Homo sapiens: one gene and its partners. The protein of the gene in region 5 purifies or fractionates together with the protein of the main gene of each other region. This does not show direct contact. Each region holds a gene or a part of one and is shown on either strand. Other genes may lie near its edges.

Evidence for each region.
Region 1: the proteins of SYDE2 (region 5) and CALD1 purify together in Homo sapiens (affinity purification with mass spectrometry, with the first as the bait; one large-scale study listed by BioGRID). This does not show direct contact.
Region 2: the proteins of SYDE2 (region 5) and PPP1R12A purify together in Homo sapiens (affinity purification with mass spectrometry; one large-scale study listed by BioGRID and IntAct). This does not show direct contact.
Region 3: the proteins of SYDE2 (region 5) and DSG1 purify together in Homo sapiens (affinity purification with mass spectrometry, with the first as the bait; one large-scale study listed by BioGRID). This does not show direct contact.
Region 4: the proteins of SYDE2 (region 5) and DLAT purify together in Homo sapiens (affinity purification with mass spectrometry, with the first as the bait; one large-scale study listed by BioGRID). This does not show direct contact.
Region 6: the proteins of SYDE2 (region 5) and FIP1L1 purify together in Homo sapiens (affinity purification with mass spectrometry; one large-scale study listed by BioGRID and IntAct). This does not show direct contact.
Region 7: the proteins of SYDE2 (region 5) and P4HA3 purify together in Homo sapiens (co-immunoprecipitation; one large-scale study listed by IntAct). This does not show direct contact.

What each region holds. Positions count from the first base shown.
Region 1 is NC_000007.14:134,933,134-134,936,633, reverse strand, and holds part of CALD1 (caldesmon), read right to left. Parts: coding exon 2,557-3,500; intron 947-2,556; coding exon 869-946; intron 1-868. UniProt on the Homo sapiens protein: Actin- and myosin-binding protein implicated in the regulation of actomyosin interactions in smooth muscle and nonmuscle cells (could act as a bridge between myosin and actin filaments).
Region 2 is NC_000012.12:79,809,598-79,813,097, forward strand, and holds part of PPP1R12A (protein phosphatase 1 regulatory subunit 12A), read right to left. Parts: intron 414-3,500; coding exon 198-413; intron 1-197. UniProt on the Homo sapiens protein: Key regulator of protein phosphatase 1C (PPP1C). Mediates binding to myosin. As part of the PPP1C complex, involved in dephosphorylation of PLK1. Capable of inhibiting HIF1AN-dependent suppression of HIF1A activity.
Region 3 is NC_000018.10:31,349,160-31,352,659, reverse strand, and holds part of DSG1 (desmoglein-1 preproprotein), read right to left. Parts: intron 1-3,500. UniProt on the Homo sapiens protein: Component of intercellular desmosome junctions. Involved in the interaction of plaque proteins and intermediate filaments mediating cell-cell adhesion.
Region 4 is NC_000011.10:112,042,408-112,045,907, reverse strand, and holds part of DLAT (dihydrolipoyllysine-residue acetyltransferase component of pyruvate dehydrogenase complex, mitochondrial isoform 2 precursor), read right to left. Parts: intron 2,443-3,500; coding exon 2,375-2,442; intron 771-2,374; coding exon 678-770; intron 46-677; coding exon 1-45.
Region 5 is NC_000001.11:85,198,217-85,202,307, forward strand, and holds the start of SYDE2 (rho GTPase-activating protein SYDE2), read right to left. Parts: upstream 2,801-4,091; 5' UTR 2,781-2,800; coding exon 2,036-2,780; intron 2,027-2,035; exon of another isoform or gene 1,935-2,026; intron 1,824-1,934; exon of another isoform or gene 1-1,823.
Region 6 is NC_000004.12:53,387,641-53,391,140, reverse strand, and holds part of FIP1L1 (pre-mRNA 3'-end-processing factor FIP1), read right to left. Parts: intron 1,333-3,500; coding exon 1,268-1,332; intron 621-1,267; coding exon 513-620; intron 133-512; coding exon 2-132; intron 1-1.
Region 7 is NC_000011.10:74,280,641-74,284,140, reverse strand, and holds part of P4HA3 (prolyl 4-hydroxylase subunit alpha-3 isoform 1 precursor), read left to right. Parts: intron 1-3,500. UniProt on the Homo sapiens protein: Catalyzes the post-translational formation of 4-hydroxyproline in -Xaa-Pro-Gly- sequences in collagens and other proteins.

The DNA of each region.
Region 1 (3,500 bases), on a different chromosome or scaffold from region 5:
TTTTCTTAATAGATGCCATAGTTTTCTTAATAGATGGGTTGGAGCATGTTGGCTACAAATCACTTCACCAGTCTCATAGGCGAAGAACTTCGGGTCTTCCTACTTCAAATAATTCAGTTTCACCACATCCTAATAAGTATTGTGAACTTATTCGATATAGTCACAATTTTTAAGATTATTTGGGGCAAACACAGCATGAGAGTTGAAGTGCAATCAAGTGTTCTGATGTGGTGTTCTGATTACTGTCAAACCCCGTGCCATTCTATCTGTATAGCTCCTTGTTCACTTACCTACAGTCAAATACCCTGGCACCCGCTCCTGTGTGTGCCTCAGAAATGCAATGCAGAACATTTGGCCAAACTTTTCTTTTGAAAACCAAATATCATCTTCAGTTCACCATATTTTCTACTGAGATGTGTGTGGGTGTTTTTCCTTTGAAAAGTTAAAGCATTAATCAAGGCCAGTTGGAAATATTTCATGATTGAAATGAAAGTAGAATGGCTCAAGGAAAAAAAATTAGCATTCAGAAGAATAGAAAACAGGATAAATTGATTCCAGCAGTGTTTTTCAAGCCTTTTTGATGACGTCCCACAGAAAAAAAGACAATTTACCTGACAATGCAATACTTACTACCTACAATGCCCTCTGATGGCTTCTATCCATTTCATTTTTTAAAAAATGCTGACTGATACATTTAATTAATTTTGAGACACTCTAAGCTGATCTCACTATTCAGTGGACTGTGAGTCATGGCTTGAAATACACTGGATATGAGGTTACAATTTTGAGATCATCAGACCTGAGATATCTTGGAACACTGACTGCTTTTTCTGTTGCTTTACGATCATTACTTTTCAATCATATTTACCTCTTCTTTTTTGAAGGTAGGCTTGTCTTCTTGGAGCTTTTCTCTTTTAGCTTGCACTTTAGTTCCCTTCTCTTCTCCCTTTTTATTTTCAAGAATGGTAAGGTCACACAAGTAAAAGAAGCCCTTTCTAGTTTACAAGAGTGACAGGGTGCTCGGATCGCCTTGCAAGTGCTGCGTGGGATGGCTTCTCTTCTGCCGTCTCAGCGCTCACAGCACAGTGGTTCTAAACAGCAAGGTGGGATATTTTCTTCCCACCCCAACATCTTCTCGTGTGCCTGCCATTGCGCTCACTGAAATCTAGCATGATGTGGCACTCCTCGTGTGTTTACAAACCTCGTGTGTGGTTTGGTGCACTTTGCTCATGGTCTCAATTTTAGCTGTGTTCATGAGCCTCTTGTACAGAAGCAGGAGTTAAAGATACCTTCAGTGCAATGCAGGCTTAGTGACAGAGAATTTGCTCTGGAAAGGTGAATGTGAAAGCATCTCTTTTTTTCTTTTTTTAGGAGTGGTGGTGGTGGTGTGGTGGTGATTAGGTACAGTGCTTTCAATGCAGTCTTGCAGACAGAAAAAAAATCTTTCTCAAAGCTTACAAACATTTCCCCCCTACTATTTCCACCCTTCCTCAGGCCACATGAATTTGTGTCACCCAGATAATAAAGAAGCAGCATGTATGCTCTTAATTACCAGTCAAATATAAATCAATACTACCCTAAATTAATGGCTTTCTGCAAGTCTACATTAAGCTGAGGTCTACATGTTGGCAAATCAGGGTTTTGACTTTTTTTTTTAAGGAAAGTTTCCAACCAGTTCCTTTCCCCCTCTTTATTACCAGTTAATTTCCAGGGGTTTGTTTTTGCCTTTTTGTTGTTGTTGTTGTTTTTGTTGTTGAGATGGAGTCTCTCCCTGTTGCCCAGTGGAGTGCAGTGGCACAATCTCAGCTCATTGCAACCTCTGCCTCCCAGGTTCAAGTGATTCTCCTGCCTCAGCCTCCTGAGTAGCTGGGATTACAGACATGTGCCGGTACACCCAGCTAATTTTGTATTTTTAGTAGAGATGGGGTTTCACCATGTTGGCCAGGATGGTCTCGATCTCCTGACCTTGTGATCCACCCACCTCAGCCTCCCAAAGTGCTGGGATTACAGGTGTGAGCCACTGTACCCAGCCTGTTTTTGCCTTCTTAAGATGAAATGTCTGACCATTATTCTTCATGTCTCTTTCCCACCCCAGCTTTTATCATTTTTTTAATTCAACGTCAAACCCATGAGTGAGGTAAGGAGTTATGGGCCTCTTGCCTCATGCAGACCTATGGATAGAGGAAAGATAATTAAAAGAACGAGTTTAGATGCAAGCACAGAATCAGAAGCCAACACACCACCACCACATTTATCATCTTTGGATTAATTCTTTTTTTGGGTATTCATAACAATCAAGCACAGAGCAATTAATTTCTCTCTGTCTTCTGGACAGCCAAATTTACTGGCTGTCCCAGTAAATTTGGTTGATTGAATATTCAGCCATCAATCAATTGCTGCATGCTTGTGTATCGCTATGGCCTGAAAAAATGAACAGCTTGCCAAATGATCAAGCATGTGAGCTATATGCATGTGGCCTCAGTCCCAAATCAGATGTGCATTACATTTCTCACAAGTCACAGGCATCACACATTTGGTGCAAAATGTTTACTGTACCTGTTTCTTTAGGACAGCTGTCTGAAGTTTATCTTCTTGTGCTTTCTTTTCATTTACCCATTTCCCTTCTATTTTCTGTTCTACCTTTTCCCCTTTTATCTTTGTCTCTTGCATGGCATGTTTTTTCTCTTCTAGCTGCTTGTTACGTTTCTGCTCTTCTACCTTAGCCTTCTCTTCCTCCTCTGCCCTGGCCCTTTGCCTCTCCTCTGCTGCCCTTTTCTCTTCCTCTTTTATCCTCTGCCTCTCCTCTGCTGCCCTTTTCTCTTCCTCCTTTATCCTCTGCCTCTCCTCTGCTGCCCTTTTCTCTTCCTCCTTTATCCTCTGCCTCTCCTCTGCTGCCCTTTTCTCTTCCTCCCTCATCCTTTCCCTCTCTTCTGCCTCTCTCCTTTCTCTTTCTTGGGCAGCTGCTTTTTCTTCTGCTTCAATTCTTGCTCGTTCATCTGCTATCTTTTTGTCTTGCTCGGCTTTAATTCTTTCTCTTTCTTCTGCTTCCAACCTTGCCCTCTCTGCCTCAGCTCTTTCCTTGTCTTCCTCTTCCATCTTTTCATGATGGGAAATCTCATCTGAACCTTGTTCCCTCTCCTCCTCTTGTTTAGGCTCTTCTGAACTGATCTGCCCATTTTTTAATGACATTACCACTGTTTCCTCCTGGCTTTCAGTTGTTTTCTCTTCCACCATCACCTCTACCTGATTTTCTCCAATGCTCCCTCGCTTTGGCTTCTCCTCTTCCTCCTCCTCCTTTTCCTTGTCTTCTTTCTTGTTTTCTTCAGCATCCCTCCAATCATTCTTCTGGTAGGACTTGGTGACTGTTTCTGTTTCCTCTATCTCGTATCTTTCTTGGCGACTTTCACTTTTTTCTTCCTTCTCGGTAGTTTCATTTTCTGCTGTGTCATTTTGCATTCTTCTGCTTGGGAGCGACAGACTTGCATCTGTTATTGTTGGGT
Region 2 (3,500 bases), on a different chromosome or scaffold from region 5:
ATGTTTTAGGCAAATACATCTGATCTTTCCAGTATTTATAATTCTGTATAAATTACATTTGTCTTATGTAATTCATTAAGGTTAATTAACTTGATACCTAGATCTAAAGATAACTAGCAGAAAATCTACCAGATTTGATGTTCCTGGAAAAGAAATCATAACAGTTTTCATAGAAACCAGACTGTGAAATAGATTACCTTTTCTTTATTATCCAAAGAGGAGGAAAGTCTGGGACTTGAAGCTGAACGTGTAACACCTGCAGTATCTTTTTCTTTCTGACCCTCTTTAGATGCTGTGATTTCAGCAAGTGCACCATAGCTGCCCGTCTTTCTAAGTCCTAACCTCCAAGTTGCAGGAGACTCATCTTTTCTCTCTTCTTCTTTGGGAGAAATTTTTGTAGCTGTGGTTGGAAACTGTGTTTATTTTATTTTTTAGGAAAAGAAAAAAGAATTTGTAAAGCTGATCAGTCCTTAAATTGGAAACAATAAGTTTACAGATAATATATTTAAAATTATGGTTTACAGTTTCAGGATAAAACACTTTTACTACATAGGTTAATGTCTTAGTAAAAAATGTAAAGATCTAAAAATTTTAAAGAAATAGACTACCTTCCTAGGGGTTAGACTTAAGAAAACACACTACACACTTTATATCACACAGAAAAATTATGATGCAAATACAGAAAACAGAAATGAGCACACCATAAGGACTTAAAACCATGCATCTTTGGAACCAATTTATATTAAACTTGTTATGTTGTAACCTAATATAAATTCTTGCACATAGAAATGCCTCACCATAGATTTTTCACCCTTACTGGGCACAAGAACAATGCCAGTTTTGCGCAAGCCCTGCCTCCATGATGCAGGATCTACTGATTCCACCACAGGCATGATAGGAGCAATGAAATCATACTAAAGCCAATTAAAATAAGACAGGTAAAGAGACAAAGATTGAAAGCATGAAAACAGAAAAGGGAAGTTATGAACAAAAAATATTTTCTTCATTTGAAAATAATTTTATAATTAACCCCAATAATTGGGTAATGATCCAATCTTTAAAAGTCACTGGGAACAAGTTCTAATTTTAGCATGAGATAATCTGAAAAAAATCTAATAAACTTCTAAAGCAATTAAAAGGCATACAGAGTAGATAATATAGCATGTGACTGAACAAACTACTGCACATGAATTTTGTTTTTAATCCATGTATATACTCTGGTTAAAAAATTTTGTGTCCAATATAATCAACAAAAACTAGTAACTGATATTTTTCCAATTATAATACTTTTTTTTTTAACATCACAGCCTTAAATTTACTGATTTCCCCACCAAACATTAACTATTTCAACTATAATAAAAACTAATTTTATGTACAAATATTTATGCTATTTTAAGGGCTTTCCAACAACCCTAAAAATGCAACCTCTGTTATCTTTAGATCACTTCATCAACTTCACTTCTAGAAATTCTATACTCAACCACAGTTAACTATATAGATTGGTGAATACAGCAACTAACTAGTTGCCACAAGCATAGGGTATTAATAATTTTTTAAAAATCATTTCTTTCATATCTATTGCCAACATTTGCTATAATTAGCAGGTTAACAGGGCTTGTTAAAGCCCCCATGATGATGCTTGAGGGCCACTTCATGGACAAAACTGTTATAAAGATATACCTCTGGTACTTCCAGTAATGAATTGCTATCAATAGTGTCTAAGCATTCCTCAGTTCCTAAAATGTGCACCAAAGTGCTCCAGAGTGTCACAACAAAATCACGGGGGCTCTGTAGAATATTTTAAAGTTTTGAGAGAAGCACAGTGACATCTCATAGACACTGCACAAACTGCCATTTTGATCACATTTCCATCAAACTACTTAATGAGACAAACAGGCAATTCCTTTTGCCAGTGGCACTGTGAAAAAATCCTACCAAACACTAGGGGCTCCAATGACCAAGAAAGTTTGCGAACTCTAATATTCTGTGCAATATGATAGGTACTGAGACAGCTGCTTATTGATTGGTGAGTTTACAGGGCTACACTGTAAATGCTAGGCTTTGTGGAACACAGATAATATTAATACACAAATGATTGAGTGTGGCTGTAACCAATAAAACTTTAGGGACAATGACTTTTTTTTATTTTTTTTCTCCAACCAGTTTGCTATACAAAAACAGGTAATGGGCTAGGTTTGGCCCACCAGCCATAGTTTGCCAACACCCACATTAGGTCTCCCACCTCCTCAAAAAACAGAAACAAAAAAACAAACAAAAAACCTGGAAACAAACGTTTTTTCCCCCATTATAAAACAGCCAGAGTCAGTCAGTCAGATAACATTTATTGTTATAAATGAAGCTAACATTTATTGTTATAAATGAAGCTAACATTTAACAAATATTTACTAGTGTGTGACCCTCAGCTAAGTGCTTCACATGGGTTATCCTGTTTCAACCTTATAATTACCCAATGAAATACTACTATTACTGTTATTTTAGAGTTGAGAAAAACGAGGCAGTACTATCTATCAATTTTGAAATGGGCATTTGTTACACTGTAATGGCTGATATACCTCCACTCTGCCCAACATGAACTTGGATTTAAGTACTGCTTTATATGTCTAAAAGCACCTTTTAATTTTACTTGATATATAAATAAACCCTTCCTGAAATACTTAACTATACCTCCTCCTCCATTAAACTCTCTTCTTTGGCTTTTTTTACTGGACACTATCTTCACCTTCTTTTTCTTTTTACTCTGACCATTCCTTTTCTTGACTGACTCTGTGTGTGCGTGTGTGTGTGTGTGTGTGTGTGTGTGTGTAACGTTCCTTATACAGGCTGTGTGTGTTTGTGTGTGTGTGTGTGTACAACTTTCCTTGTGCTAGCCCTTCCAGAGCCTGCTCTTGGATCTCTCATATTCTCTTTCTACTTTCTTCTCCTGGGGGGTTAGGAGGAGGGTCTTTACTTCCTCAGGCTAAATATTAATTGTAGTCAGCTTATTCTCAAATGTGTTATTCTCCAGTCCAGTCTCCTAAATTTCCAGTCCTAATTTTACCTGTCTATTCTAGGTAAAATTCTACCACACTATTCTAGAGTGGACAATCTAGAACTATAACTGAAAACTTGAAACTCAGTATGTCTAAAATAAAACACCTTTACTTCCAAACCATCTCTTCTTCAGTTCCCTAATTCTGTTAATGGCACTAAGTATATCTCTTCAATCTCCTATGTTTCAAACTTCACAATTATGTTAGACCTTCTCTGTCATTTTCCTCCATCCATAAATTAGAGGTCAAGTCTCTAAATCTCCTCTCCTTTATAAGCCCAGAGTCACTTCTCTAGTTCATATTCTTATCATTGTGGGCAACTTCAATGACTTTCTAATAAACCTTTTCTCAATAAGCCTCTCATCTTCAAATCTGTACACTGCTGTCAGAATAATATTCTATAAAGAATAATCCTCTCATGGCATTGTTCAAACATCTTCCACGACTACT
Region 3 (3,500 bases), on a different chromosome or scaffold from region 5:
AAGCCTCCAAGAAATATGGGACTATGTGAAAAGACCAAATCTACGTCTGATTGGTGTACCTAAAAGTGATGGGGAGAATGGAACCAAGTTGGAAAACACTCTGTAGGATATTATCCAGGAGAACTTCCCCAATCTAGCAAGGCAGGCCAACGTTCAGATTCAGAAAATACAGAGAATGCCACAAAGATACTCCTCGAGAAGAGCAACTCCAAGACACATAATTGTCAGATTCACCAAAGTTGAAATGAAGGAAAAAATGTTAAGGGCAGCCAGAGAGAAAGGTCGGGTTACCCTCAAAGGGAAGCCCATCAGACTAACAGCAGATCTCTCAGCAGAAACCCTACAAGCCAGAAGAGAGTGGGGGCCAATATTCAACATTCTTAAAGGAAAGAATTTTCAACCCAGAATTTCATATCCAGCCAAACTAAGCTTCATAAGTGAAGGAGAAATAAAATCCTTTACAGACAAGCAAATGCTGAGAGATTTTGTCACCACCAGGCCTGCCTTACAAGAGCTCCTGAAGGAAGCACTAAACATGGAAAGGAACAACCGGTACCAGCTGCTGCAAAATCATGCCAAAATGTAAAGACCATCGAGACTAGGAAGAAACTGCATCAACTAACGAGCAAAATAACCAGCTAACATCATCATGACAGGATCAAATTCACACATAGCAATATTAACTTTAAATGTAAATGGACTAAATGCTCCAATTAAAAGACACAGACTGGCAAATTGGATAAAGAGTCAAGACCCATCAGTGTGCTGTATTCAGGAAACCCATCTCACGTGCAGAGACACACATAGGCTCAAAATAAAAGGGTGGAGGAAGATCTACCCAGCCAATGGAAAACAAAAAAAGGCAGGGGTTGCAATCCTAGTCTCTGATAAAACAGACTTTAAACCAACAAAGATCAAAAGAGACAAAGAAGGCCATTACATAATGGTAAAGGGATCAATTCAACAAGAAGAGCTAACTATCCTAAATATATATGCACCCAATACAGGAGCACCAAGATTCATAAAGCAAATCCTGAGTGACCTACAAAGAGACTTAGACTCCCACACATTAATAATGGGAGACTTTAACACCCCACTGTCAACATTAGACAGATCAACGAGACAGAAAGTCAACAAGGATACCCAGGAATTGAACTCAGCTCTGCACCAGGCGGACCTAATAGACATCTACAGAACTCTCCACCCCAAATCAACAGAATATACATTTTTTTCAGCACCACACCACACCTATTCCAAAATTGACCACATACTGGGAAGTAAAGCTCTCCTCAGCAAATGTAAAAGAACGGAAATTATAACAAACTATCTCTCAGACCACAGTGCAATCAAACTAGAACTCAGGATTAAGAATCTCACTTAAAACCGCTCAACTACATGGAAACTGAACAACCTGCTCCTGAATGACTACTGGGTACATAACGAAATGAAGGCAGAAATAAAGATGTTCTTTGAAACCAACGAGAACAAAGACACAACATACCAGAATCTCTGGGACGCATTCAAAGCAGTGTGTAGAGGGAAATTTATAGCACTAAATGCCCACAAGAGAAAGCAGGAAAGATCCCAAATTGACACCCTAACATCACAATTAAAAGAACTAGAAAAGCAAGAGCAAACACATTCAAAAGCTAGCAGAAGGCAAGAAATAACTAAGATCAGAGCAGAACTGAAGGAAATAGAGACACAAAAAACCCTTCAAAAAATTAATGAATCCAGGAACTGGTTTTTTGAAAGGGTCAACAAAATTGATAGACTGCTAGCAAGACTAATAAAGAAAAAAAGAGAGAAGAATCAAATAGATGCAATAAAAAATGATAAAGGGGATATCACCACTGATCCCACAGAAATACAAACTACCATCAGAGAATACTACAAACACCTCTACGCAAATAAACTAGAAAATCTAGAAGAAATGGATAAATTCTTGGACACATACACTCTCCCAAGACTAAACCAGGTAGAAGTTGAATCTCTGAATAGACCAATAACAGGAGCTGAAATTGTGGCAATAATCAATAGCTTACCAATCAAAAAGAGTCCAGGACCAGATGGATTCACAGCCGAATTCTACCAGAGGTACAAGGAGGAACTGGTACCATTCCTTCTGAAACTATTCCAATCAATAGAAAAAGAGAGAATCCTCCCTAACTCATTTTATGAGGCCAGCATCATTCTGATACCAAAGCCAGGCAGAGACACAACAAAAAAAGAGAATTTTAGACCAATATCCTTGATGAACATTGATGCAAAAATCCTCAATAAAATACTGGCAAAACGAATCCAGCAGCACATCAAAAAGCTTATCCACCATGATCAAGTGGGCTTCATCCCTGGGATGCAAGGCTGGTTCAATATACGCAAATCAATAAATGTAATCCAGCATATAAATAGAGCCAAAGACAAAAACCACATGATTATCTCAATAGATGCAGAAAAAGCCTTTGACAAAATTCAACAACCCTTCATGCTAAAAACTCTCAATAAATTAGGTATTGATGGGACGTATTTCAAAATAATAAGAGCTATCTATGACAAACCCACAGCCAGTATCATACTGAATGGGCAAAAACTGGAAGCATTCCCTTTGAAAACTGGCACAAGACAGGGATGCCCTCTCTCACCACTCCTATTCAACATAGTGTTGGAAGTTCTGGCCAGGGCAATTAGGCAGGAGAAGGAAATAAAGGGTATTCAATTAGGAAAAGAGGAAGTCAAATTGTCCCTGTTTGCAGACGACATGATTGTATATCTAGAAAACCCCATTGTCTCAGCCCAAAATCTCCTTAAGCTGATAAGCAACTTCAGCAAAGTCTCAGGATACAAAATCAATGTATAAAAATCACAAGCATTCTTATACACCAACAACAGACAAACAGAGAGACAAATCATGAGTGAACTCCCATTCACAATTGCTTCAAAGAGAATAAAATACCTAGGAATCCAACTTACAAGGGATGTGAAGGACCTCTTCAAGGAGAACTACAAACCACTGCTCAAGGAAATAAAAGAGGACACAAACAAATGGAAGAACATTCCATGCTCATGGGTAGGAAGAATCAATATCGTGAAAATGGCCATACTGCCCAAGGTAATTTACAGATTCAATGCCATCCCCATCAAGCTACCAATGACTTTCTTCACAGAATTGGAAAAAACTACTTTAAAGTTCATATGGAACCAAAAAAGGAGCCCGCATCGCCACGTCAATCCTAAGCCAAAAGAACAAAGCTGGAGGCATCACACTACCTGACTTCAAACTATACTATAAGGCTACAGTAACCAAAACAGCATGGTACTGGTACCAAAACAGAGATATAGATCAATGGAACAGAACAGAGCCCTCAGAAATAACACCGCATATCTACAACTATCTGATCTTTGACAAACCTGAGAAAAACAAGCAATGGGGAAAGGATTCCCTATTTAATAAATGGTGCTGGGAAAACTGGCTAGCCATATGTAGAAAGGTGAAACTGGAT
Region 4 (3,500 bases), on a different chromosome or scaffold from region 5:
ATGAGGTATGGTTTGCTTTGATTGCATTAATCGCTGTGCAATAACCTGAAACCAAAGAGATTTAAAAAATCAATTATCTTGAGTTAAGACCTTAACTAATTTAGGGCTCTGTTTGTCTCTTCACCTTACTCTCTGCTAATACTTACCTCAAGCATTATTATAATTGAAAGATGGAGGACTCCGCCATAATATAACACCTCCTAGATTTTTTTTTTTTTTTGAGATGGAGTCTCGCTATGTTGCCCAGGCTGGAGTGCGGTGGTGCGATCTCGGCTCACCACAACCTCCATTTCCCAAGTTCAAGCAATTCTCCTGCCTCAGCGTCCCGAGTACTTGGGACTACAGGCATGTGCCACCATGCCCGGCTAATTTTTGTATCTTTAGTAGAGACGGGGTGTTTCACTATGTTGGCCAGGCTGGTCTCGAAGTCTGGACCTTGTGATCTGCCCGCTTTGGCCTCCCAAAGTGCTGGGATTACAGGCATGAGCTACTGCGCCTGGCCCTTCTAATAGGAACAAAGTGATTCAAGTATTCAGTTGGCCAAAACTTCCCTTAAAGTAATCATCCAATATTCCCAACTTAAAAAGCCTCTGTTAATGTGTTAAAAACTATGGAAGCAACTAAACAACCTAAAGATGCCCCTAACAGCTGATTCCAGATGATGGTAATTCTCTTACCCGACGAATGTTGCTGATTGGGATATCTGTGAAGACACCTGTAGGAACTGGTGCCATTCCAGGACCTGTGGGAGGCACAACAGCTGCCGGAGCCTATGGGAGGAAAGAAAAAGCTCTTAGTAACTGTGATTCAATCTTAGCGTAAGTACCTGGGAAAGACTGCCAGTGACTATGCAGTTTTTTTTTTTTGTCTTTTGAGACAGAGTCTTGCTCTGTCACCCAGGCTAGAATGCAGTGGCTCAATCATGGTTCACTGCAGCCTCAACCTCCTGGGCTCAAGCAATCCTCCCATCTCAGCCCCTAGAGTAGCTGGGACTACAGGTGCACGCCAACATGCCCAGCTAATTTTTTTGGATTTCTAGTAGAGACGGAAATTAGCCACGTTGCCCTGGCTGGTCTCAAATGCCTGGGCTCAAGTGATCCACCCACCTTGGCTTCCCAAAGTGCTGGGGTTACAAGCATGAGCCACCATGTCCAGTCTAAAAACTAAGCTTTATAGAATACCTATTTCTGTCCCCAGTGAGCAAAAGAGACTTCTGCTTGTTTTAAGAGTTTTAATTTTTTTACTTAGAATTCTGAAGTCATGTTTTAAGTGTCATTTTTCTTTGTATCAGAGTATGTTCAATGACCAGTTTGTGTCAAAATAATTTTGTTTTTGCAAAATTATGTTCAAGAAAAGCAATGGAAGCATTCTTAAGTTGCAAGGAATAATAAATAAGTATAAACAAGCTAATCCATTATCCTAAACAATGTTAAGAAAAGGGGGTTGGGAGGCTCACTTGAGCCTCACAATGACTCACTTGAGGCCAGGAGTTCGTGACCAGGCTGGCCAACATGGCGAAACCCTGTCTCTACTAAACATACGAAAATTAGCCAGGTGTGATGGCATGCACCTGTAGTCCCAGCCACCTGGGAGGCTGGGGCATGAGAATCGCCTGAATCCAGGAGGCAGAGGTTGCAATGAGCCAAGATCGCGCCACTGCACTCCAGCCTGGGCGACAGAGTGAGACTGTCTCAAAAACAAACAAACAAAAAAAACCAAACACCAAAAACAACTCATTCAACTGTACTTTAAAATATTTTGAAAAAGAAAAAAAGAACAAATCTTTTATTTCAAAGCAAAAACCGATTAACTAGCTCAAAACATAATGTGGAATACATGTCAATGTAGTATATCATCTTTGATCTTGTATATAAATGATAGCACACAAATATCTAAATACACTTGGCCCTCCATATCCATAAGTTCTGCATCACTGGATTCAACCAAAGGCAAATCAAAAATATTCCAGAAAAAAACAGATGGTTGCATCTGAACTGCACAAGTACAGACTTTTTGTCCTTATTATTATTTCCTAAGCAATAAAATATAACAACTATTTACATAGTATTTACCTTGTATTTAATATTATAAGTAATCTAGAGATGATTTAAAGTATTTGAGAGGATGTGGGTAAGTTATATACAAATACTACACTATTTTATATAAGAGACTTAAGCATTTGCGAATTTTGGTATACAAGGGGGCTCCTGGAACCAACCTCTCATGGGTACCGAGGGATGACTGTATTATTAAACCACTGAAATTAGAAGAAAACAATCTTGGTTGAGCTATTTCGTTCATAAATAATGTATGAAATGGTCTAACAGGCTGTAGAGACAAACTGCAAAAAAAGTAAGAGCTACACATAACTCACAGGAGCAACTTTACTAGGCACAAAAGAGTCGATATCCTTCTTGGTGATTCTACCATCTGGTCCTGTCCCTGTAAGAGACATAAATATCACATACATGATGACATACCATTGGTTCCCCAAGGAGATCAACGCTGTGATCCTAAACTGCAAGCTCCTAAGGGTTTACTACCAAAAACATTCTGAAAGGTTCACAGCCTTAACCCTACCCCTTAAGGTGCTACCTACAAATACCAGCTTTTGTCAACTATTAATTTTAATCCACACAGAGTACCAGTGTGTGATCTGGAGTGGGTCTTTTCTTTTTAACTACTGCAAATATTCCTTTATGTATTTCTCTTTTAGAGTTTTATCCAAGTTGTACTTAATTTTTTTCATCTTCCTTACTTTTAAATTGGGAAATGTGGCATAAGGATAATGCCGAGCACAGTTTATATCTCCAAAAGGGAAACTAGCTGCCTCCTCCTGGTTAGCTCCAAAAAACCATTCCTAAGCCGTGAAATAGATTTCATTTGGGTTCTGGATTTATGTGACCATAAAGAATTCCTTTTATACAGAATTTACAGGTATAACAATAATTGTTTTGACAAATCAAGTCGATTTTTTCACCCCAAAATAGCACGAATAACTCTTTACTGCAATTATCTTATCTTTAGAATCATTCATTCCTTATGTGGTCTCTATGACTCATAGCTTTTTCACAGTAGCCAAGGCTCTAAACTGGCCCGTGTTAAAGGAAATGAAGGAAAAAGGTGCAATGTCACACATGAGGAAGGATCTTCAAAGTTCTCTCAGTAGGTTTAATTTTACTTATATTCAATTTCCTCCCTCCTCCCACCTACAGCCTCTTAGGTTTAATTTTGGACCCAAGTAGATAATCTTGACCTTTAATTCTACGGAGATTCAGAATTTAGTTATTATTATAGAATACCTTTTACACTGGCCCACTTCTAGGAAAAATTTGGTCAAACTGATTCATCTTCCCCCAAGGCAGACTTTAAAAAGGACTCTTGTTGTGTGTAGTTCTTCCCAATTCCTTTCCTTCATTACGAAAACTGAGTTGGCTAGGATTGTATTTATCCTCACTAGGAGCTCTAGAACAGAGGTGGTAGTACCCCTATTAGATTTC
Region 5 (4,091 bases):
TGAGTGATCTTGGGCAAACTGCTTAATCCCTCTGTTCTTTTTCTTGTAGCTGTTGTTAAATGACAGCATATCTCCATTTTGGGGGCTATAAAAATTGTATGAGAACCACCTAATGTATCCAGAATGGACTTAGTAAGACCAACTAAACTTCATGAAAAATAATTTTTTTAAAAAGCTCTCCAAATCTATACTAGATATGTAAACACTGCACAAATTATTTTCATCTCTCCTGAAAAATGAATTAGTGGTTTAAAAGGAAGTAACATCTGAGAGTTGTTTAAACCAGAGATTATGGTAGCTTTGGCTTAGATTTCTCATAAAATATCTAAAATATTATCACATAATAATTGTTTCATTTTAATTTCTAAGTTAGCAGTTTCATTTAATTAGTTGCTTAATGCAAAAATCAAATTCATTCTTAAAGGAACTATATTTATTACTTTAAAAATCCTTGAATGTTTACTACTGAGGGCATTAAAAGCCATCACATGGTAAGTGTTTTAGCTCTGTGACAAAAGGGTGAAAAATATTTGACTATTTTTTGTTATGGCTGAAATTCAACTATGGTACCAAGAGTTAAAACTAAGCCAAAGGGGGGGAGGTAAAAATATTGTGGCAATAAAATATAATAAATGATTACAAATTACTCCTGGAAATGCATGTTTAATATGAACTTAGTATAAAGTACACCTCTCAACAAAGAATTTACATTCTATTATCCTTTTGTTCAAGTGAAATGGAATATTTAACCTTGAGAATAAAATTTGACAGGTGTGTATTAGAGCCGTATAGACAGGAAAAAACTTTGCAAGTTGGCACACACTTTGAATGAATCATTTGATTTGTCTTCATTGTTTGATAAGAAGTTTTGTGAACTTTGTTTCTCCCCACTGTTGTGTGTTTATTGGTTAAACAAAGTTAATGTGTATAAATCCAGTCCTGTAGGATTTATAATTACTACCAGAGAAACCGCCAAGTACTGTGAATACCTTTTACATTTCAGGATTTAATGTTTTCCAAATTATTCCTGACTTATAAGTCTTTATGATCACTAAAAATTTTTATATGTAAGAGTATTCAAAAGACCATGTTGTTTTGGCTCACTTTGAAGATATTATACTCCTTTCAGGAAAGATATTTTGATATTTACAACATAATTGACTGGTTTCTAGAATTGATAACCTAAACCTTCAGTGATAGTTAAAAATCATGCACATACAAAATAGGGAGCTTAATCCTATTATAAGGATCAATATACTTTTTAAAAAACTAATTTACTTCTCTTATAAATAGGATTTAAGTTTGCAAATGACTGCTTTAAAAACAAAACTACCTGAGGAACATTTTTCTTTTGATTAAAATGTTAGTGTCCTTGATTTTTCACAATAAAAAGATTACTTTGTTGAGGTTTCTTTGTCGGGGGGAGGCAGGTGGAGAGATGGTGTATGTGAAATACTACCTGACTAAAAAATTCTACTTATGGTAGGGTTTTTTTTGTTTGATTTGTTTGGGTTTTTGGTTGTGTGTATGTATGCATGTGTGTGCGTGCCTGGGAGAGGCAAAAAAAAAAAGTTGTAATGAGTAAAATGACAGTTTATGAAGCCTATAAAATCTACCTTGAATCAAATTCAAATTTACAAACTCCACAAAAGTCTACGGATTTGCCTAGAGCTACAAAGAATAAAAATCAAGACAGTGCCGCCCATCTGTAAACCTACTAAAAGTGTGTTATACTTAACCTTTACTCCTTTAGGTAATACTTAGGGAATAGACACACTGGTTTTTCGAGAAGAAATCACAACCTCAATTCTTCATGCCATTGTCTGATTAAAAAGAAAAAAAAAAGCAAAACGAGTAAATGCATTACATTAAGTAACCCCGAAATTACTTTAAGCTGCCACTTACATGACACTTACTTTCGCCCGGTAACGTACCTGTCGCAAAAACATAACTTTTTCTTGGCTCTTAAGACAGAAGCCCAGTCGGTAAACAGTAAGGCTCGCGGTGCTAGCATTTTCATCGCAAAGTATCCTACCTGTCAGCGTAATTCTTTGGTCTGGAGGCACCGACAGGACACGGTTTTCACGCACTTTCAAAGCGCCCACATTTGGGGAGGCTGCCTGCGTTCCTGTGACTTTGGGAGCCGTCCCACGGGCACGACCCTTCATTCCCAGGGACAGCAGACGCCCTTTGTACATCCACTTCTGCAGCTTCTTGACTGTCACTGCCGGCGGCCTGAGGAAGGAGGGGCCTTCCTGGCGGTCTCCTTTGCCACTGCGTATCACAGAGGACCCCGCTGGATCCCTGAAAGGGCTTCCCGAGGAGCAGCCGTGGTCCTTGCAGCCTGGAGGCTGGAGGCCGGTGGGTGCAGCCGCCCGGGCGCGGTCCCCACTCCAGCCGTCCATCCTGCCTCCACGTGGCGGGGGCTCGTCCCAGTCCCGGTGCGCGCCGCACCTGATCCAGCTGTCGCTCGGCCACCGCTGGAAGGGAGGCGGCTTGGCACCCACCCGGAGGCTCTCGAGGCTTCTGCTGCAGGACGGCCGCATCCGAGGAGTCCGCAGCTGGCCTCCCCGCGGCTCCCTCTGAGGCGACCGGGGCGGGGACACCTGCTGCCGAGGGCGTCCGCCGCCTCCCCGCTCCCCGTCCCGGGGGCAGGCTCGGCGGTACGCGGCGCCGCGGGAAGGCGGCTGGCCCGGAGCCCGGGCTCCCGCGGGGAAGCTGTGATCCGCCAAGCCCCTGCCGCCCCGCCGCGCGCCCGAGTCAGGGGGCAGGTCGTGCATGGCCTGGATCAGCAGATAATAGGCCTCTCGCAACTGGGTCCGCAGCCTGCCTGTCTCCAGGCGGCCGCCCTCCGCCCCCAGGGAGGAGCCCGCCGCTGGGGGAGGCGGGGGACGCCGTTCCGCCTCCGCCCCCTCAGGCTCGGGCGCAGACTGCGAGCCGCCGGGCAGGTTTTCGTAGTAGTCGGCGTCGTAGTCGTCTTCGTCCTTGTCGTCTTCCTCCTCCTCTCCGCTGTCCTCGGAGCCCTCCGGGGAGTGCGGAGGGGCGTGAGCGAGCCCATGGCTCTGGGGGGCGGCCTCCTGCCCGCCGCGCGGCCGAGGCCCGAGCGCCCCCAACTGCTCCGGGTGCCCTCCGGGGACCCGCGCCCCGGGACCCCACGCCTCAGGTGACGGCGAGGGCTGCTGTAGGCTCCGCCCGTGTCCCCCGGCGTGCTCACGTGGGAGGGTGTCTGCGGCACCCCAGGCGTCTCCCGCGGCTGCCGAAGAGGCCGCCACCGCAGCTGCGGCTGCCGCCCGGAGCCCTAGCCCCCCGGTGCCGCGGGGACCCCGCCTTCCCCGGAGCCTGGACAGCGTCCTCCTCAGAGGGTCCGCCATCCCCTCTGCCTTAGCCGCGAGGCTCACCCCCGCCAGGGGGAGAGGTCGGAGCCCCGCTGGGGAGAAAACCGCGCTCGCGGAGGCGGAGGCGGAGGCGGCGGCGGCTCCCCATGACCGGCGCTGGCCCTCGCCGGCTCCTCACATACTTGGCATAACTCTGCCGCGGGAAGGCGTGGGGGAGGGCGGTGGCGCCGCAACGCGCATGCCCCGGAGCCCCGGGCCGCGACGGGGCGCGCGGGCCGGGGGCGGCAGAGGTGGGTTCTCGGGGTGGGCGAGTGGTGCAGGTGGAGGCGGAGGGCGCGGGCCGGTAGGTTGAGTAGTAGGTCGGCTGAAGCTGACCGACGGAAGCAGGGGTGGGCGCACAGAGCGCGAAGGGTGCGGGGAGAGTTGAGGCAGGGGAAAGAAGAACGAGCAGGAACGTGAGTTTGGGCTGGTGGCTGCAAAGTTTTGGTTAGGGAGCCCGAGAAAGGGAAAGTGCCCTCCTGGCTGTCACCCCAGCACCTTCACCGCCACCGCTGCACGAGGTGTGTCTTAGGCACAGCAAGTCCTAGCTTGAGAGAAAACAAAGATTGTTTTGACGGACAAAGTACGAGTGCAGGTGTATCTCGGTGCATGTGTTCTAGAAATGTATCAATCATTTTAATCGCCCAGAGAGCTAGCTAGCTAAAAGAAATTTGCAGCGATTCCTTTTCTATAAGAGTTCTTTTATCAAAAACAAAA
Region 6 (3,500 bases), on a different chromosome or scaffold from region 5:
CCGTAATTTTATTTGTAGTAGAGGTTACTGGTATAACTTCAAGTCCCATTCGTATCCTCTTTTGTTTTTCACAGTAAGCTTTCCAGGTATCTTCATTAAACCCATAATTAAAATAATCAGAAAGATCAGCACCTAAAGATAAAACACAACTTTAGTGTACAAATATTTCAGCTCTATTTTTATGCAGCATCAAAAATATACTAAACTATAAAAATATAAATTTAGAGTTCTATCAGTTATCACTCTATCATTTATGGTGGCAAAAAGACTATATCATTTTTGATCAAATTATTCCCTTTACAAACGCCATTATAATAAACAATAAGTCTACATTTTAAGTAATACAAGGCCACCAGTAAGATTTAATAATCCCAAGTCATTATTACTCATCATTTGCTTAAGACAATTAAAATTATAATGAAAAAATAAAATTCTAAATTGATGTTCAAAAAAATTTTCTGATGACTTCACACTGAAAATATTGAAATTAATATAATCCACAATAATCTTACCAGGTTTACGCCATGGTTTATCTTCAAAAGAATCCAAATCTACCTCTAAGAGTGGAACTCCATTAATGCTTCCAGGTGCATCAAGGTCTACTCCTTTGACTTTTGTCCCTGTTTTATAAAATTACAAAATGAAGGAGCTATACTTGCAAGAAGCCAGGCGATACCATAGACAAACAGAAAATATAAACACCTTTTTACTATTCCTGGCACATATACACACACAAACAGAAAACAAACATCTTTTTACTATTCCTGGCAAAAAACCTGGCAAGGGTTCCAAACAAAGCAGAGCCTAAAATACGTGCTACTGGACTCTTGCCAGAAAAACTTTACCAGTCTCTGTGATGTACGGTCAAAAATTACTCTTTAAAAAGAGCTATTATCACCTTGGCCGGGCGCAGTGGCTCACACATGGAATCCCAACACTCTGGGAGGCCAAGGCAGGTAGATCACTTAAGCTCGAAAGTTCAAGAGCAGCCTGAACAACATGGTGAGACCTGGTCTCTACATAAAAATACAAAAATTGGCCAAGCATGGTGGTGCACGCCCGCAGTCCCAGCTACTTGAGAAGGTGAAGTGGGAGGATGGTTTGAGCCCAGGAGACGGAGGTTGCAGTGAACTAAGATTGCGCCACTGTACTCCAGCCTGAGTGACAGAGCCAGACTCTGTCCCCGACTAAAAAAAAAAGCTATTAAGACCTATTTAAGATATGTGCCTTATTTCCCTATTGATGCAACAGAAAATACAAATTTTACCTGTAGTTCCATAAACTCTTCCCCCTGTCTTGATGTTAAGATTTACAGGTGCTGTACCATAACTCCTAAAAACAAACAAACAAAAAAAAACAGAAATTATCCTGAAAAGCTTAAACAAAACAGTAATATATTCCATTTGTACAAACAAATTATACAATCACATAGTAAATGGATAGTGTGACACACATTTTATTTCTATCTTTATTTTTTAAATTTTGTATAGATGAGATCTCATACCATGTTGTCCAGGCTGGTCTCGAACTCCAGAGCTCAAGCAATCCTCCCACCTTGGCTTCCCAAAATGCTGAGATTACAAGAGTGAGCCACCGTGCCCAGCTAACACATATTTTAAAAAACATTTTAAACTGATTTTTAAAGTCACTTGCTCAATAAAAGGCAAAAACAGTAAAAAAAAAAAGCCTGACTTGTTTCCATTTCAAAAACCTTTTTGCCAATAACTCAACATTCTACTGTAACAAACTTCACAAGAAATAAGGCTAAGAAGGGAAAAATAGTTTACACCCCTTGTCTTCATTTCCTTGCCTCCCAGTTATTAAATATACAGCACTCTTAAGCATAAGTAAAATTCCTCCAACTTGTTGTCAAATCTAGTGGCCTTTCAGTTCTTCTTGCATTTGATATTGTTAATAAATCCTTTTTCAACTATTCATGGAGTACTCAGTCCATAACAGAAATTTATTGACAAGAAATTCAAAAATAAGTCTAGCATGAAAGCAGAACAGTGTTTGCCGGTGGTGGGTGGTTAATGACCAAGAGGCAAAATGAGAGAAACTTCTAGGATGCCAATTATGTTTCATATCTTGATCTGGCTGTAGTTACATGAATGTATATATTTGAAAAAATATTAAGCTGCACCTTTTTAGATGTAATATAATACACAGTGATAAAGAAAAAAATATCTGAAGTTGGACCAACCCACATTCAAATGTTTTGTCAATTGCTAGTTGTGTAATCTTGGCCAAAACACCTAAGACTTGTATACAATTATTTGAATAATTCATTGCATTTTTACTTGTATAAATGAGCCTTGTATACATTTTCTGTAATACGGGGTTACAGACAGTTCTTTACTTCTTTATATAATGGATTCTTATATATGAGTAGTATTATCAAATATACTAATTAAAAGAGACTTTTCTGTTACTAGGGAAGTTAGAAGAAAACGGGAATGGGCAAAGAAGGACCAACTCCCACTGAACAAAAACATATCAGTAAGACGGCCGGGCACGGCGGCTCACGCCTGTAATCCCAGCACTTTGGGAGGCCGAGGCGGGTGGATCACGAGGTCAGGAGATCAAGACCATCCTGGCTAACACCATGAAACCCCGTCTCCACTAAAAAATAGAAAAAACTAGCCAGGCATGGGGGTGGGCGCCTGTAATCCCAGCTACTCAGGAGGCTGAGGCATGAGAATGGCGTGAACCCAGGAGGCGGAGCTTGCAGTGAGATCGCGCCACTGCACTCCAGCCTGGGCAAAAGAGCGAGACTCTATCTCAAAAAAAAAAAAAGATATCAGTAAGACCTCAAGTCACAGATGTTTATAATGATATATTTCTCACATTATATTCATGTTATATATTTGGTTCTTTTCTCTCAGAACTTCAGCCATCTGGACTTCAGATTCACTGCTTTGGGTCTAATAATAATTACTTCCATCTTTTGTCTCTGATGTACTACATTTAAGACTTAGGTTTAGTTACATTTGCACTGTCACTTTTCTTTTCTACTTAAAAAAGAAAAATGTAAATTCAATAAAATGTTTAATTGTATCAAATAACTGTAGCTCCACAGCTAGAAATGCAAAAATTACAAAGTGGACCAAATATTACTACTGTCAAGCAGTACTATCGTCACCAACTTGAAATAATCATTTCATAGGCTGATTAATTCATGTAATGCTTACTGAGCACCAAACCATGTCAAGTATGGTTCTAGGCTGAGGAAAAAGTATGAGGAGCTGGACAATTACGGTTCCTGCCTTCACGATGTTTACATTTTAACAATCCAAATTCAGAAAAAGTGACTTAGCGGTATCTACATATGATGTACATGATTTTTCTACAAATGTACAAAAATCAAGGATTTTCTCTAAACTGTTCTCTTACAGGACCGTATAGAATAAAACAGTATTTTTATAAAAGGCTTAGCCACAAGTGTTCAATAAATGAGCTTCTTCGCTTTCCACCTAGCTACTTTCTATTCCCCATTCTGC
Region 7 (3,500 bases), on a different chromosome or scaffold from region 5:
ATTGTCTCAGAATTATTTCTGTCAAGCCAGACATTGTGCCCTTAACATGTGCAGTTCATCCAGGCAGCCATTAGTCATTCGTCAACAGAATAGAGCCCACTGTGTGCCAGACACTGGCCTGGGTGCTGGGCTTTTACAGTGAGATGAAGTATTGGTTCTTTCCTCTTGGAAACTTAGTGCACAATGGAGAAAAACAAATATTTACACTACACTATGATACATGCTATCATAGAGGTGTGGGCAGAGAGTTGTGCTATGCACATAAAAAAGCAAGGCTTCCTCTAAAGAAAAGGCAATTGGGTGAAGAAGAGATGGGGAAGGGAGGAAGAATCAGGGAAGGCTTCACTGTGGAGGTGACATCTATCAGAGAAAGAAGGTAGCAAAGGGTATTCCAGAAAGACAAAACAGTATGTGCAAGGGCCTGATATGTGGTATGTTCAGAGACTGGGCAGAAGCTTGGTGGCTGAAGTGTGCAAGGGATGGGGGCGAGAGGTGATAGGAAATGAAGCTAGATGTGAGACACCATTAGCAGATGCTATAAATGCCATGCCGGGGAGTTTGGATTTTATCCTGTAGGCAGCAGGAGAGCTGTTGGACAGTTTTAATGGGAGAGTTGCATGATCATGTCTGATTTTTAAGGAAGACTGTAACAGCAGACATGGATTGGAGGGAGAAGAGGGGCAATCATCATTTCATCTAAAAGCCCCTCCAGGAAAGTCTAGAATCTTTGCACAGAAGCTTTTTGAGATAATTAAGCCCCACTGGTGAATTGGAGCAAACAGGTTCAGCTTTGCAGTGAGCCAGCAGTAGTAGCTTTTGGCCAGCAGCTGCTTTTTCCTTATAACAGCCCTGTTGCCATGGTAACGGGAGAAGTGACCCACCCAGAGACGTTGATTTAAATGTTCATGGCCATGTCGTCCATTTAGCATGCACAGATCTTGGCACACTTCCTTCCCCTAGAAGTGTCTCTCTGGGGCTGCTGATGCCTGTCTGGTCTGTGGCTCTCCCAGGAATCAGCCCTGGACTGACATGGTAGTGGCTTCCCCATGGGAACTGAAGACAGATGCCTCAGTGGCTTGTGTTGAATATCTCTGCTTCCTAGTCACTGTCCCTTTCCCAAAGCACACTCACTCATCACTTCTCTCTCTCACCACATCCTGCCCATCTTTGAAGACTCAGTTGAAGCCCTGCACCTTCGCTGGGCCCGCTAGCCCTGATCATTCTGGCCTCCTTTGGTTCTTTTTCAGAGCACTTTTTGGAGCCATATACAATTACCTATTCCTCCTCTGAACTCTAAGCTTTTTCTCACTGGTTGTTTGGTACTTAATTTTTAAATGTATTCTGCCATTTATGTGTTGTTTGACATCACTGACAGTTTCCTGGGTCAGCATCCTGTCTCCCCAGTCAGACTGTAAACTAGCAGGCATCATCTTTCTGCAAATGCCTTGCCCCATGTTCTTCCCATTGCTGCCAGAGTAAATCTTTAAAAGGTCAGGTCTGACCACTCAAGCCCTTGCTGAAACTCTTCACTGGGTCACTTTTGCCTTTGAGTGCTTACAAGTCTCCATGGCCTGGCTGCTGCCAACCCCTTCTACCACATCTCCCCCGGCACTTGACGCTCCAGCTGCACACTCTTCTGTCTGCCTGGAACGAACTGCCCTTGACTTCTCACCTGTATGATTCCAGTGTGTCTTGTGGACATCCTGGAAAGACTCCCTGTCCCTCATAAGAATGGGCTATGTGTCCCTCTTTCTATTGCCATGGCATTCTATACTTGCCTATTATGGCCCCATTAGATGTCTTAGGGGCAGGGACATTGTCTGGATTAACATTGTTTTTCCAGTGCCTAGCACAGTGCTTAGCACAGAGAACAACCAATAAATATTTGTTCCAAAAAACGAGTGACTGGTAGGTAGACAATTAATGATTGTTACAGGAAATAAATATAAGGTGACTCCTTAATTTGGGATGGGGGGGATTCCTTAGGGTTTTTTTTTGTTTTTTTTTTTTAAACCATTGATTTTGCCCTAAAAGAACAGAAGGGAGCATCTCTCTTCTATGAGTTTCTCCTCTACAAATGGCTCAGGACAGGACACCAGGGACAATGGATGGAGGCAACATCAATCCCCTTCTGATTTCCTGCTTCCTAAGATTGTAGAGCCACATGTGAGAGGAACTCGCAAGCACATGTTGTTCATAAGCTGCATTTTATTTATTTTTTATTTTTTTGTCCCAAACTTTTATTATTATTATTATTATTATTATTATTATACTTTAAGTTTTAGGGTACATGTGCACATTGTGCAGGTTAGTTACATACGTATACATGTGCCATGCTGGTGCGCTGCACCCACTAACTCGTCATCTAGCATTAGGTATATCTCCCAATGCTATCCCTCCCACCTCCCTCCACCCCACAACAGTCCCCAGAGTATGATGTTCCCCTTCCTGTGTCCATGTGATCTCATTGTTCAATTCCCACCTATGAGTGAGAATATGTGGTGTTTGGTTTTTTGTTCTTGTGATAGCTTACTGAGAATGATGATTTCCAATTTCATCCATGTCCCTACAAAGGACATGAACTCATCATTTTTTATGGCTGCATAGTATTCCATGGTGTATATGTGCCACATTTTCTTAATCCAGTCTATCATTGTTGGACATTTAGGTTGGTTCCAAGTCTTTGCTATTGTGAATAATGCCGCAATAAACATACGTGTGCATGTGTCTTTATAGCAGCATGATTTGTAGTCCTTTGGGTATATACCCAGTAATGGGATGGCTGGGTCAAATGGTATTTCTAGTTCTAGATCCCTGAGGAATTGCCACACTGACTTCCACAATGGTTGAACTAGTTTACAGTCCCACCAACAGTGTAAAAGTGTTCCTATTTCTCCACATCCTCTCCAGCACCTGTTGTTTCCTGACTTTTTAATGATTGCCATTCTAACTGGTGTGAGATGGTAACTCATTGTGGTTTTGATTTGCATTTCTCTGATGGCCAGTAATGGTGAGCATTTTTTCATGTGTTTTTTGGCTGCATAAATGTCTTCTTTTGAGAAGTGTCTGTTCATGTCCTTCGCCCACTTTTTGATGGGGTTGTTTTTTTCTTGTAAATTTGTTTGAGTTCATTGTAGATTCTGGATATTAGCCCTTTGTCAGATGAGTAGGTTGCAAAAATTTTCTCCCATTTTGTAGGTTGCCTGTTCACTCTGATGGTAGTTTCTTTTGCTGTGCAGAATTTAGATGGGGAAACAGGCCCAAGGAAAGGAAGAGGCTTTTCCAAGACTGTCTATCTGGTTTAGCAGGAGGGACAATGACATTATGGAAGCTTCAGAGAAGGGAAAGAGCTTCTGTCTGTGTAGCTCATTGCCCCAGGCACTGCTCTGCCTGCCTGTGAAGCACCAGAGCTGGGTCTGAGCCCTGTGAGTACCTTTAAGGGCAGTGCCCTATTTCATTCATTTGTTTATTTAACCAGTACTAAGCACCTACTCCACCAC